Homo sapiens: one gene and its partner. The protein of the gene in region 1 purifies or fractionates together with the protein of each later gene. This does not show direct contact. Each region holds a gene or a part of one and is shown in the gene's direction. Other genes may lie near its edges.

The links.
Region 2: the proteins of CD36 (region 1) and CROT purify together in Homo sapiens (affinity purification with mass spectrometry; 2 studies listed by BioGRID and IntAct, with this or other methods). This does not show direct contact.

What each region holds. Positions count from the first base shown.
Region 1 is NC_000007.14:80,662,623-80,669,650, forward strand, and holds part of CD36 (platelet glycoprotein 4), read left to right. Parts: intron 1-350; exon of another isoform or gene 351-367; coding exon 368-547; intron 548-1,783; coding exon 1,784-1,875; intron 1,876-3,820; coding exon 3,821-3,867; intron 3,868-7,028.
Region 2 is NC_000007.14:87,348,664-87,355,691, forward strand, and holds part of CROT (peroxisomal carnitine O-octanoyltransferase), read left to right. Parts: intron 1-384; 5' UTR 385-405; coding exon 406-520; intron 521-7,028. UniProt on the Homo sapiens protein: Beta-oxidation of fatty acids. The highest activity concerns the C6 to C10 chain length substrate. Converts the end product of pristanic acid beta oxidation, 4,8-dimethylnonanoyl-CoA, to its corresponding carnitine ester.

The sequences.
Region 1 (7,028 bases):
TGTGCAGGATTGTTACATAGGTATACATGTGCCATGGTGCTTTGCTGCACCTATCAAACCATCATCTAGGTTTTAAGCCCCGTATGCCTTAATGCATTAGATATTTGAGAAGACCACTTTAAGTGTATCGTTAAATAAATAGAGCTTAACTTGGAATGTCGTCTTCTTGTGGCTGGCACTGAGGCAAAGAAATGTAATCATCTAGGAATTAGACGAATTGCATTTTGAGTTTTGGCAGGATCTGGCAGTAATTTTAAAGATAAGCTTTAAAAAGTTTTGTATTAAGCTCAATATTAGCATTTAATCCATTTATTTGTTAAAATCTAATATTGTATTCTTGTCTTAAACAGTGACTTTGTTTTTGTAGGCTGCATCCCATATCTATCAAAATCAATTTGTTCAAATGATCCTCAATTCACTTATTAACAAGTCAAAATCTTCTATGTTCCAAGTCAGAACTTTGAGAGAACTGTTATGGGGCTATAGGGATCCATTTTTGAGTTTGGTTCCGTACCCTGTTACTACCACAGTTGGTCTGTTTTATCCTGTAAGTACCAAATATGAATGGCAATATTATTACATTTTAATTTAATTAATTCAATGGCATTGGCAAGGCATAATTTTATAATTTAGCTCATTAGTCTTATTGCTGATCTGGAGACATATATCCTAACTTTTTAAAAAGTCCACTTCTCATTATAGCTTCAGCTTTCCTAGTTGGGAAATTCATCTGAATTTAACAATTAAATTTAAACCTGAAGAATAGATTTAATAAGGTTTCTACTCATTTATAAATACACAATTTTTTTTAAATTAGCCGGTAAGCTAGTCTGTAAATCTTTGAGCACTGTTTTTGGCTTTTATTTCCCTATTCACATAATCAAGTTTAATACCATATTTTTATTTGTTTTAAATATACTCCTCATTCCTCCTTTTCTAGACCTCTTACAATTTTAATTTATATTTAAAAGTTAGCCTAATGTTCACATCTCAATACTGATAAGGTAATAGACTTCATTTTAATGGGATTTGTAAATAAGAATTTTTAGTAGTCCATAATGTCATGAAATGGCAGCTTGAAGATTAAGGAAAATGTGAACTTGATGGTGTACTTGATTACCGCTTAATGTTTTGAATTACAAATAGGATAAGCTAACTACTGAATTGGAAGTTGGACTATGACTTCATTTGGCACTATATGTGAATATTATGTTCTCTAGTTCATTGTTTTACTTTTAGATACTGTTAGGATTACAAGGTTATATATCAATTATAAATGAATGTAGAAAGCCATAATGAATCAAATTCATTCTGATTTTAACTCAATACTCATAGCTCTTTCTTTGGCTAATGCTTTAACTTTTGGATGTCTAATTTTTATCATTTTAGTAACCACTTATTATCATTTTAGTAACCACTTATTAATGACTGTAACATTTAGAATACCCCTAGAAATCATTGTTCTTATAGGTTTGTTCAATGTCCCTCACCTCAACATAGTAAGAATAGTGATCAAAATGCCCTCATTGGCTTAATTATGACAGAGTGCTAGAGTTCACATCATGTCAGCTTCTGATATGTATCTTCTTTGTCACAGCATCTAGCACTTATTTCTAGGCACCTTTCACAATTTTTAAGGCCAATAATTTAAAAAAATGTATTGCAGATGTATTTCAAGTCATTTGAGTAACCAGTGATTGAGAAATGTGAAAGTGAGTTATGTATTGTACAACTTTGAAAAAATGACTTGTAGAAGTAACATTTTCCCATACATATATTTCAGTACAACAATACTGCAGATGGAGTTTATAAAGTTTTCAATGGAAAAGATAACATAAGTAAAGTTGCCATAATCGACACATATAAAGGTAAAAGGTAAGTATTCTGGTAAAATGTGCATGTATGTTACTAGGGTACTCTTAAGCAGGAATAGTATTCATTTAACATCTCATAAGACATAGGCATCAACCTATAGAACAGACCTGGTTATAATTCAGCTCTGGAAACTCCTGTTCTGCTAGGTATTAACTCTTTAGTTGTGGTAACTGGTGAGTTCACACCAGTGCATAGCTGCTGACTATCAGCTCCACTTTAAGGTTTGGTTCACCTTTCTGCACAGGTTATGGTTGTGTTACATAAATCCCCAAAGGGACTATTTTTTCATCTCTGCTACTTATCCAGCATTACAGTATAATTATTCTTACAATTAGATAACCATAAATGAAAAGGTAAAAAAAAAAAAAACAACACATCAACTGATTGTGTAGTAGATGGAAACTTTTTTTTTACTTTTTAAATCGAGCATATCGAATTCCATATTCCAGTGGCATGACCTAAATGTGTCTATAAAGATGGAAGCTTAATGAATCCAGGCAACTGCTTTCATGACCTTCCCCCTGCAAATAGTCTTTAATAATTTTCCATATTGATAACTCAGCTTTTTTAACTTTATCAATGCAAAAATAGAATGAATATTTCAAGTGCAGTTCTACAATGTAAATACAAAATGTGAAAATGAAGACTTTGCCAACTTTAAAGTGGTAAAATAACAAATCAGCTTCCTAAGCCATTATTTCCTTTTTTTTTTTCTAGCTCCAGCCTATTCACCTAAAGAATTTATAATTTATCATATATGTAAACTAGGAAGAACCCTAATAAATATCAGAGGAACAAGCTTTCTTCTCCATAAAATTAACAATTGTGTGTTTGACTAGTTTTTTTCTGAAAAAGAATAAAGTGATCAAAACCAAAAGAGATGAAATGTTTTTATTAATATAAAGTAACCCCTACCTCAAACTGAGTCTATCTAATGATTGCTTTTAACAGCTAAATATTACTAGTGGAGTACTTTTTCTTCTAAAGAGTCCACAGTTACATATTTTTATAGAAAAAGTCAGTAGAGGGAAAAAAACACTTCTAAGTATTCACTTAAAAGGAAATCACAGCAATTTTTTATATTGAGAAATAACGAGCATTTCACTCTAATATTACAGAGAGATGTGGAGGGGAGTTGCAAAGCACTCCTAGTTAGAGTAAGAATTTCACATCATTTTAAGATTGTAAGGTTGATTTAACTCATGGCAAGACTGAACATGATTAACCACTTATTTTGTTTAAGCAATGGCTTGTCTTGACATGTCACTGTCAGGAGTGGAAAAAAAGTTTTTCCATCACCAAAAAGTGAGGATGCAGGGAAACTATTACTATTGTTTTTATCACTTCCAGATATATATAGCTTATTTAGACAGCAAAGTATAAGTTAGTAAACTCTTTCCTACTTTAACGCCAGTCCATGGGAGAATTAAAGGGAGGAAGGGGCAAGAATATAAATTAATCATCTACATGTTTTGAATGTTTGCTGATCCAAACATCTGCTTCTTTCCTCTTCCCTGCTTCTCTCTTCTGCCTGCCTTGTACTTAGCTTATATCAGTTACCCACTTAACACTTTCCTTCTATTCATTCTGAACACTTATACTACTGAGTAATTCATGTATCCCATTGGAAAAAAAAAAATTTCCCCTAAGTAGAGATCTAAGTTTCTGATAAATGTTTTTAATTTTTTTCTTATTCCAAGATGTTTCTAATTAACACCTGGCAGTTTTTATTTTATGATCTGGCTACCTAATGGCATCAGGTACATTGCAATAAGATAAAAGGTTCAAACAAAACATAAACAGAATTGAACATTTCTTAAACTTAGTACTTGTCACATTTAAATGCATCATATTAACAGAAGTATTGAATTATAATAGAAAAAGTAATGTAAGAAAGGTATTCTTTAAATAAGAATGTTTATTCATTGTCTTTTTCTATTCCTAGGAATCTGTCCTATTGGGAAAGTCACTGCGACATGATTAATGGTACAGGTAAGAATATTTGTTTTGTGGTCATCACAGTTAATCCACCTCCCTTTCCCACAAATCCACCGTTGTACTGACAGTGTTCTGAAAGTTGAGGGTGTGTGTTTACTTGCCTTTATATCCCCACAACAAAATTCAGAGTCACTATTTGTATATAGGCTAAAGGTCTGTTCAATGTGATGGGATTTGTAAAGATTAATCATAAAAAATTAGCCCTTACTGCATGATTCAGAGAAATGTTTGCTTTGTAAAAACTTTACTGCCATCCTGGCAACAGAAGTAAATGGTAAAAAACAAACAACAACACAAAACACTTTAGTTACATTTCAAATATTTTATAAATAGTATACAGATAAGTTAGAATTGAAAGAATTAAAAAAAGCTAATTACAAAATAGAAAACATATCTAAGCAAGGCTTATAGCTGAGATAGAATAAAGTTGCAAGACAGAACCATCCATTTTTGGATAAGGTGGTCAGAATGAGAGAGAAAACAATAACAAAGTCAGATGTCTTCTTAACTGTGAAAAATATATGTAAAAAATGAGCATTCATAAACTTAGATTTAAGGTATGGTTAGATCAGGCTTATTCTCCTTCAGGAAAAGCAAAGTACAGATATGCCTATTAGTTTAAGAATTAAGATTTTTAAAAAGCAATGGGAGGCTGGTCACAGTGGCTCATGTCTATAATCCCAGCACTTTGGGAGACCAAGGCAGGTAGACTACTTGTGCCCCGGAGGTTGAGACCAGCCTGGGCAACATAGCAAAATCCCATCTCTACAAAAAAAATACAAATATTAGCTGGGTGTGCTGGCACACGCTTTTAGTTCCGGCTACTTGGGAGGCTGAGGCAGGAGGATCACTTGATTCCAGGAGGTGGAGGCTGCAGTGAGCTATAATTGTGCCTCTGCACTCTAGCCTGGGCAATAGTGTGAGACCCTGTCTCAAAAAAAAAAAAAAAAAAAAAAGTGGTGGGAATCGAATACCATGAAGTAATTAATATCCAGAGGCAAGCTTTCAACTACTAGGAAACAAAAGCATGAAGTTTAGAAAATTAGGGAATATCCCATAGGAAAATGATATAACAAAGATAAAGACACTTAAGTAAAAATGAAGTACAGAGAATGTTTACTTTGCCAAAGGTATGATTATTGACTTCGTATGCGTACTTGATTCTATCATTGCCTTGTAGGAAATGATAAACAAAAAAAGCAAACAAAAAAAACAGCAAAAACACTGTTGGATTTGCAGGGGTTTTCTTTTGTTTTTTTTTTTTTTTTTTTTTGAGACATAGTCTGGCTCTGTTGCCAGGCTGGAGTGCAGTGGTGCGATCTCGGCTCACTGCAACCTCTGCCTCCTGGGGTTCAAGTGATTCTCCTACCTCAATCTCATGAGTAGTTGGGACTACAGGCATGTGCCACCACACCCAGCTAATTTTTGTATTTTTAGTAGAGACGGTTTCACCATGTTGGCCAGGATGGTCTTGATCTCTTGACCTTGTGATCCGCCCCCCTCGGCCTCCCAAAGTGCTGGGATTACAGGCTTGAGCCACCACACCTGGCCAAGGCTTTGCAGGGTTTTGAGCCATAGGAGTGGGCAAATAAGCTATTTTCTAAGTAAAGCATTTCTGGAAATAAATTTTCAAGTCCTCAATACTACCAATGCTAGTAGTTGTATAAGCGGAATACTTAGTCCTTAGATGCAGAGATAAATATACTGTGTTAATCCTAGTAAAGGATTCTTTAAGGAGAAAAATCTTTAAAAAGAAGATTCATTGACAATAATAGAAATGCATGAGCATCAGGCATGATGTTAAAAATATCTATGGGGAAAATAGGGCTGATACAAACTAGGAAAAGAGGGAATTTGGACAGAGCAGGGGATGATCCCTGTGAGAGAGATTCTTGCTTATGGCACTAGCGAAAAGAAAGTAATAAAACAGTAAGGTTCTAATGTGTTTTCATCGTAATTTAGAAGTGCATCCTCTTTACCTTCTTCAGTAAGTTTGAAAAGACTTAAAATGAAAGTATTGGTATACATTTAGAATGTTTCTTTTGGGAGGACAGAAAAAAAGCTCTGCAAATATCAACTATGTTGCAGTCATTGTCCATGGTAGTTGCTGGGTATAATTAGGACATAATCTTCAATGATATTTTAGATAATGATCTTAAAAGCTTTTCAATGCATTTTTCTTTAATTATTAAGGAAATGGAAAAGCAGTTGTTGTCAATGTCCATATGGGGGCTTATATTTTACTTGTCACAAGAGTGTAAACTAATGAAAACAAGGTCACAAGGTTGACACACTTGCCAGAGAAAGAACCTACAATGCATAATCAAAGATGAGACTTACCATTTAAAACTCATTCAATGACGGCTCGTATTAGTGATATTCATGTGAGAAGTACATGGAGGAGTTAACTATTTCTTCATATATCCAATGTTTGCCATGGATCATAGCTGTAGCAAAAAGTAAATTCAATAAATGACTTTTTTATACACTTTCAAAGCATTTGAAGTTCTGTTTAGTGAGAGAACTTTAGTAAATATTTTTAGAAGTAGTAATCAGCCATTAGGACAAATGAGAAAAAAAATCACTACAAATAAATGTGGACATGGCAGGAGATCCAAATGAACTTCACTGGAAGAAAAGTGCCACTCTACTGGTGGGGTAGGGCATTTCAAAAAACAAACACAATGTTAGCCTTAACATTTCATGTTTAAGTTTCTTTTATTTTGTACCATTAAATATGTATAGTATGTAGATTTGTTGTTGACAATAGCAGCCGCCAGCCATATGTAACTGTTAAGGACTCAAAATCTGGCTAGTATGATTTGAAATGTGCTGTAAATATAAAATGCACAGTAGATTTTGAGACTTTAAGAATTTAAAATATTTTATAATGGTTACATGTTAAAATATTTTGGATATTAATAAGTTAAATATAGTTTTGTTTTGTTTGAGACAAAGTTTTCCACTTGTCGCCCAGGCTGGAGTGCAATGGCATGATCTTGGCTCACTGCAGTATCCGCCTCCTGGGTGCAAGCAATTATCCTGCCTCAGGATAGCTGGGATTACGAGCGCCTATCTCAGGATAGCTGAGGCAGGCCTATCCTGCCTCAGGATAGCTGCCTCCCAAGTAGCTGGGATTACAAGCGCCTACCACC
Region 2 (7,028 bases), 6.7 Mb from region 1:
TTACTAAATTTCTGAGTTTTGATATATTCATATGTAAAATTGCAAAGAATGCCACCTTTCAGAGATAACATAAAAGTTAGAGAGCTAACACATGTTTTCTGTAATGCAAACTGGAGTACCTGGCAAATGCTAGGTGTTCAATAAATGGTAACTAATTATACCAGTCCCACTGATCACTCTTTACTTCTAGCACTTTGTGTCTACACATTCTTTTTAAGTTGGTTTTCTCTATCTGACAGATTTATAAATTTCATAAAAGCTGGTACCAAGTCCTAGATATGCTGTGGTCCCTAAATACTGGTTTAGTGAATTGTGAATTGTACCTAGGATACGTAACACTATCTATGAGATTGAAGTTGTGAGGGCTCTCTCTCTTTTCTTTAGGTTTCCTATTGTGATTTTATCATGGAAAATCAATTGGCTAAATCAACTGAAGAACGAACATTTCAGTACCAGGATTCTCTTCCATCACTGCCTGTTCCTTCACTTGAAGAATCATTAAAAAAATACCTTGAATCAGGTATGTTAATAATCTTTTAGTATATATTAATATTATTAGTAACTTAGAAAACTGTGATACTGTTGCTGGAGAAGGGGTCTCGATCCAGACTCTAAGAGAGAGTTAGAGTTCTTGGATCTCTTGCAGGAAGGAATTCAAGGTGAGTTGCAGAGTGCAGTGAGAAGAGACAGTTTATTGAAAGCTTCTCCATTATAGAGTAGGACATCCTCAGAAAGCAAGCAGACTGTCTTTAAGTTTTTCTTACATAGGGGTCTTATCGATGTAAAGACTAAGCTGTGCCTATGTGAGGGTGAGCAGACAGCATGACAAAATTTATTATTCTGTTGATTTAAAGAAAACAATCCTTGACATTTTAGTGCATGAATACATCAAAGAATTATGTTAATCATCTCAAAAACATATATTGTTATGGGTATTGAGACATCTGGACTTTCTACTGTTGTAGGAGTGTGTCATTGTAAGTATCTTTAGGTTGTTTCCTCAACTGTAAATATCTTATGACTGGGTCATGACTGGCAAGGAACGTGCCTTGCTAGTCTCAAGATGGAGCTGAATTTAAAATGGTGTTACTCTGGCTCTCCTGAGCTCCTGCTTCCCCAACATTTCCCCCTCTACTTATGAGAGAACCCTTAACCTTAAGGGGAGATAAAGGGTGAAGGTTGTTCTTTTGTAACTCCTTCCTGGAGGCAGTAGATGTTGATGGTTGGGACAGGGTCTTCTCATAATAGTGTGCAGTGAGCCTCTTCAGGGAGTAAGGGAGCTCCTTGCTTGCATGATATCCCAATTGTTTCTAGAAAGTTAATATACTAGGTTAGTAAATAGAAAGGTGAAACAGCTGCTAAACTATTTTATCTTGCAACCCTATACAATAAACACAACAGAAATAAAAGCACAATAACTAATAACAATGAATATTATAATACCAAGCATACTGAAAAGAAATGCTTTCCAAGTGCTGGAAAGCTCATGAAACTATGCTGTTATGGGGTCATAAGACCGGGAATCCATAGCCAAAATACAAGTTTCTAGAGAACTCATGTCCTGGGATATATTATGGCAGTAATCAGGAACATAATATTCAGTTTTGTTCAAGACACAAGTTCCTCCCTTGGCTGCAGTTAAAGAATGTATAAAGCCATATGGTTTTGCAAGCCCACTGGTCTTATTTGGGAAGTTTCTCCTGTCAGAAGTGTGATAGCCTGATGAGTGTCATTGAAAGCCGCACCAGTATGTTTTGCTAGAGCTTTTATTTGTAATTCAATGTCTATAGCTGCTGCTTGAAGAGAGAATATGGCCATAGGATAAAACCACCAAGAAGCCTGTTTTGTCATCAACTATGGTGGGCCTTGACTATTTTTCAGTTGGTGAGGAAGGAATTTAGATGTATAACAATATGTCGTAGAAGGTAATGTTGACCCCTAGTACATTGTCCAGTCCAGTTGTAAGGTAGGTATAGCCAATTGTGAGACCCATGTGCCCATAACCATCCCCAAGGAGAAGGATGAGCATGCAATCTTAGAGATTTATTTTGCCATTCTGTCCACTTTGATTAGTTAAGACCAGGGTCTGATTGCATTGTTGGGTGGCAACCACCCCATGTTGTAGGTTTCAGCCTGGAAGTGGCTGGTGTCATGTCTCTCAAGGCATAAGAGTACTTTACCTGTCACCTGAATTTGGGTAGCCATTAATCAACTAAGCCCATCAAAAATGGTATAGCCTAAAGTGGTGATGTTATTTAGTTATCTACAGAATAATTGAAAAAGGTGTTTTTTTTGTTTGTTTCAGTAGAGGAAGGGAAGGATAGTGGCTGGTGTCTTTTTGATATATTAGAAAAGGAAATATTGGCTAGGTGTGGTAGCTCACACCTGTAATCCCAGCACTTTGGGAGACTGAGGCAGGTTGATCACGGGATCAGGAGATCGAGACCATCCTGGCTAACACGGTGAAACCCCGTCTCTACTAAAAATGCAAAAAAATTAGCCAGGCGTGGTGGCGGGCCCTTGTAGTCCCAGCTACTCAGGAGCCTGAGACAGGAGAATGGCGTGAACCCGGGAGGCAGAGCTTGCAGTGAGCCACGATTGTGCCATTGCATTCCAGCCTGGACAACAGAGCGAGACTCCATCTCAAAAAAAAAAAAAAAAAAAAAAAAGAAAAGGAAAGGAAAGCATTTATCTCTTATAAACCATTCATTGGAATTGGAATGGCTTAAATTAGCCTATTTGATATGCCAAGGTAAGCCTGAGGTTGATGAAAGAGGTAATTCACTGCGTACCCAACAGTTTTTCTGGTTTAGAAGGGAGGCCGTAGTTTGTGCCCATTCTGTAAACAAATTAGCTCTAATATTATAATAGATCAAGTTTAATATTAAAACTAGTAATTTCATTTTGAGAGTAGTACTTATCCACTGGATGGATTCTTTTTTTGAAGAGAAGCCACAGGATTCTTTATTGGCTCACAAGAGTGTGCTGGAACAGTGGTCACCACGTTGAATGCCTGTGGGACTTTATGAGAGGCAGGTTTAATTTTGGATGAATGTACCCAAGTGTGTATTCCCTTACTCCACTAGAGGTACTTAGAAGCACTTGATAGGGTCCTCTCCACTTTGGAGAAAGTTGTCTATAGGAGGTCCTTCTTTCCAAGTCTTTAATATGACTAAGTCACCTGGTTGAACAGCAGAGTTATGAATATTTATGGAGGTGGTTCTGACACATGAATATTGAACAAACGTGCATGTAACATATGACTGTTTACCCTGCAATAGAGACTTAACCCTTGCCTTACGTGATCTTAGATTCTATTTATAATTTGGTATTTTATTGCCATAAAGAGTCTGTTTTGTCAATCTTATGATTTCTATTTTAATGCTAAGCTAGTCAGTTGTGACTGAATTCCAAGAAGAGGAAAGATATGGCAAGTCATGTCCAATCTCCCTGCTTCCCCTCATGGCCTGAATTAGTTTTCAGGTGTTTTGGATGCCCTTTGGCCAAGAAGAGGGTCCATTTTGTTGGGAAAGGGCTTAGAACTTTTAAAAACTTATTTATTTTAGTTTATAGTTCCCCTTTTTTTTGTTAAGGTATGCCATCAATGGCCAAGCTCTTATTTTGTCCAGTATTGATGTCAGGGTGGTGTGCTACCTGCCCTGGATCCATCATGTCCCTTGGTGGGACCACTATGGCCAAGGGACTTAAACAAAAGACTTATGGCCAATTAAACTTTCTAGGCCAGATGGGAATGGAGGTGGGCAGGCACTCCTTAACCTTAAAACCCCTTTTAAGCAACATAAGAGCCAAAAGCCAAATGGGACGGTTATAAAATTTGCTTATTTATAAATTCTATACATTAAGCTATTTTAATCTTGACTTGTAGCAATTAGCCATATAAAATACAACATTTTGTTCAGCTATAGAGGCAGTTTGCCTGACCTTGATTTGGAGGGTCTGAATTGATTTTATTCCCCACAACAAGCCCTTACAATCTCATGTGGTAGTCTCTGGGCCTGGAAGGACTAAATAGTTTCAAATTATAGAGGAAAACAAAACATAAGGAATTAATGTTTTAAACAAAAATGTCATAAGCCCTACCTAGTTATGAGAATGACATGAAAAGAAGCCCATACGTAGCCAAATACTTAAATTATTTAATATCAAGGCATAGAAAATTATATTCAGATATAGGCAAAATTATTAAATGAATCTTAATGTTTTGAATACAGGCCTGTCCCTATGTCTCTGTCTGTAGGTCTCATGAAAATAGTTTACTTTGATTGTCCAGGTCTAAAGACAAGGCTTTGATTAGCTTCAGCTTGCTATCAGATACTGGCAGGAGTCAGTGCCTTCTTTAGATGAGCTATATGTACTCAGGAGTCAAAGCCCTGTAACTGTAAGGCACAAGGATTAGTTAATAGCACTTGATAAGGACCCTTTTAAGGAACTAGAGGGAGTCCTTTAACGGATTTTTTTTCTTTTATTTTTCTTTTTTTTTTGAAACATGGTCTCGTTCCGTTGCCCAGGCTGGAGTGCATTGGTGCAATCTCAGCTCACTGCAACCTCTGCTCCCTGGGTTTAAGCAATTCTCCCAACTTAGCATCCTGAGTAGCTGGGATTACAGTCATGCACCACCATGCCCAGCTAACTTTTTGTAGTTTTAGTAGAGATGGGGTTTTGTCAAGTTGGCCAGGCTAGTCTCAAACTCCTGACCTCAAGTGATCCGCCTGCCTCCAGTTCCCAACATGCTGGGATTACAGGTGTGAGCCACTACGCCTGGCCCTTTAACTGATTCTTTTCTAGTATATATAATTATCAGGGTGGAGGTGGTATGTGTTAGGCCATTTTTGCATTGATATAAAGAAATACCTGAGGCTGGGTAATTTATTTTCAAAAAAGAAGTTTAATTGGCTCACAGTTCTGCAGGCTATACAGGAAGCATAGTGCTGGTATCGGCTTCTGGAAAGTCCTCAGGAACCTTACAATCATGGCAGAAGGTGAAGCAGGAGCAGGCACTTCACATGGTGACAACAAGAGCAAGAAAGAGAGAGTGACAGTGAGGAAGAGGTGCCACACACTTTTAAACAACCAGATCTGGTGTGAATCAGAGTGAGGGCTCACTTGTCACCAAGGGGACAGCCCAAGCCATTCTTGAGGGCTCTGCTCCCATGATCCAGCCACCTCCCACCAGGCCCCACCTCCAACACTGGGCGTTACATTTCAACATGAGATTTGGAGGGGACATCCAAACTATATTATGGTGATAATGGAGTTCATGGTGTGACTAAAAGCTGTAAAAAGATTCTACAGTCTTGTAGTGATTAATTTTTATAACTTTAATAAATCCCAGCAATAAGACTAAGTCAGAGACTTAATTTAGGATTTTGATTTTGAGGCTGTTTATTAAACATGTTAAAAGGCTGAAAACATTTGATCAAAACAGAAGCAGAGGTCATTGTAAAATAATAGTTACTCATTTAGCCAAAGTGATAATGAAAATGCTTTAGAAGCAATACAGAAGGTTACATGATGTAAAAACCTTAAGCCTTTTAAATCTTAGTTTTGGCAACCAAAAAAACCTAATAAAGACAGCATAGGAATTATACAATCTTGTTTCTTAAGACAGTTACCAAAAAGGCAAAGAAAAATTCTGCAGTGTGACTACTTCTGCTTATGGGAAGCCCATTTAGATAACCTGGACATCAAACCTGATGAAAAAAGTGCTTGGATTTAACTGGACCTAGGAAGAGTATATTCAAGGTTATGATTATAGCATAGGATTACCTCACTCTTAGGAACAGCATTAGTTTTTTGATTACATTGACAATTTAGATGTATTTTAAAAGCCAAAAGTACAGAATCAAGTTATACTAGAGGTAAACATTGCTTTTCTAGACCTTCAAGATAAAATATTTTAGCATTAGCTCATAACAACAGTAAAATTAGAACTGGAGAAAAAAAAAGTTGATGAGAAAGCTGAAGGAAAGAATTATCTCAGACCTCAAAAAAGCAAAAAGCAGTGAGACACAGTAAAAGCTGAACTTCTGGGATATGATTCTGAGACTTTTTAAAAGAAACAGTTTATAAAAGTAAAAGTAAAATTTCTTGTAATTTTATTAAGAGCAGATTAATACCATAAAAAAATCTTGTTTTAACATCGGGGACCAAAATTTAGAAAGACTTATTTATAAATGATTTTCTTTTCACTGTAACCAATTTAATCACATACAAAATTCCTTTCATGAATTCCCCTTCACAAATCTTATCATGACTTACACAAACCGTCTATGACATGCTTGGACTTTCTGACTTGTTCTAAACTTCTCTCTTTCCTAAATAATCAGTCATTTTACTTTAGGACAAAAATTTACCATACAAGATACTTTTTCATACAAAAGTATTCCCTTCTGTATAACCTTTCTTACCAAAAATATGTATTTTTTTTTTTTTTGAGATAGGGCCTCGCTCTCTTGCCCAGGCTAGAGTGCAGTGGCAAATTCACGGCTCATTGCAGCCTTGACAGCCCAGGCTCAAGTGATCCTCCCACCTCAGCCTCCCAAGTAGCTGGGATTATAGACATGTACCACCACACCAGGCTAATTTTTGTATTTTTTGTAGAAATGGAGCTTTGCCATGTTGCCCAGGCTGGTCTTGAACTCCTGCCCTGAAGCAATCCACCTGCCTTGGCCTCCCAACGTGCTGGTGTTACAGACATGAGCCACTGGGCCCGGCCAAAAGTACATTTTTATATTCATAACTTTCTTCACATCTCTCTCTCCCTACTTGTTCCTTTTTACCTTCTTTCATAGGTAAATTTTAAATAAGCTCTAAATTATATAAAATTATTATTATTTTTCAACTTGGAGAATGTTCACTTCCCTCAATTGAGAGATGCTGAATTAAATAACCCAAAGAATGAAAATCATCAAGACCAGAAAAAAATGACAGGTGTAAACTTCAGGGCATGCAAGCACAGGGCGACATGTGTCACTAGCGAGACACAGACAGCAAATAACAGCCGATTA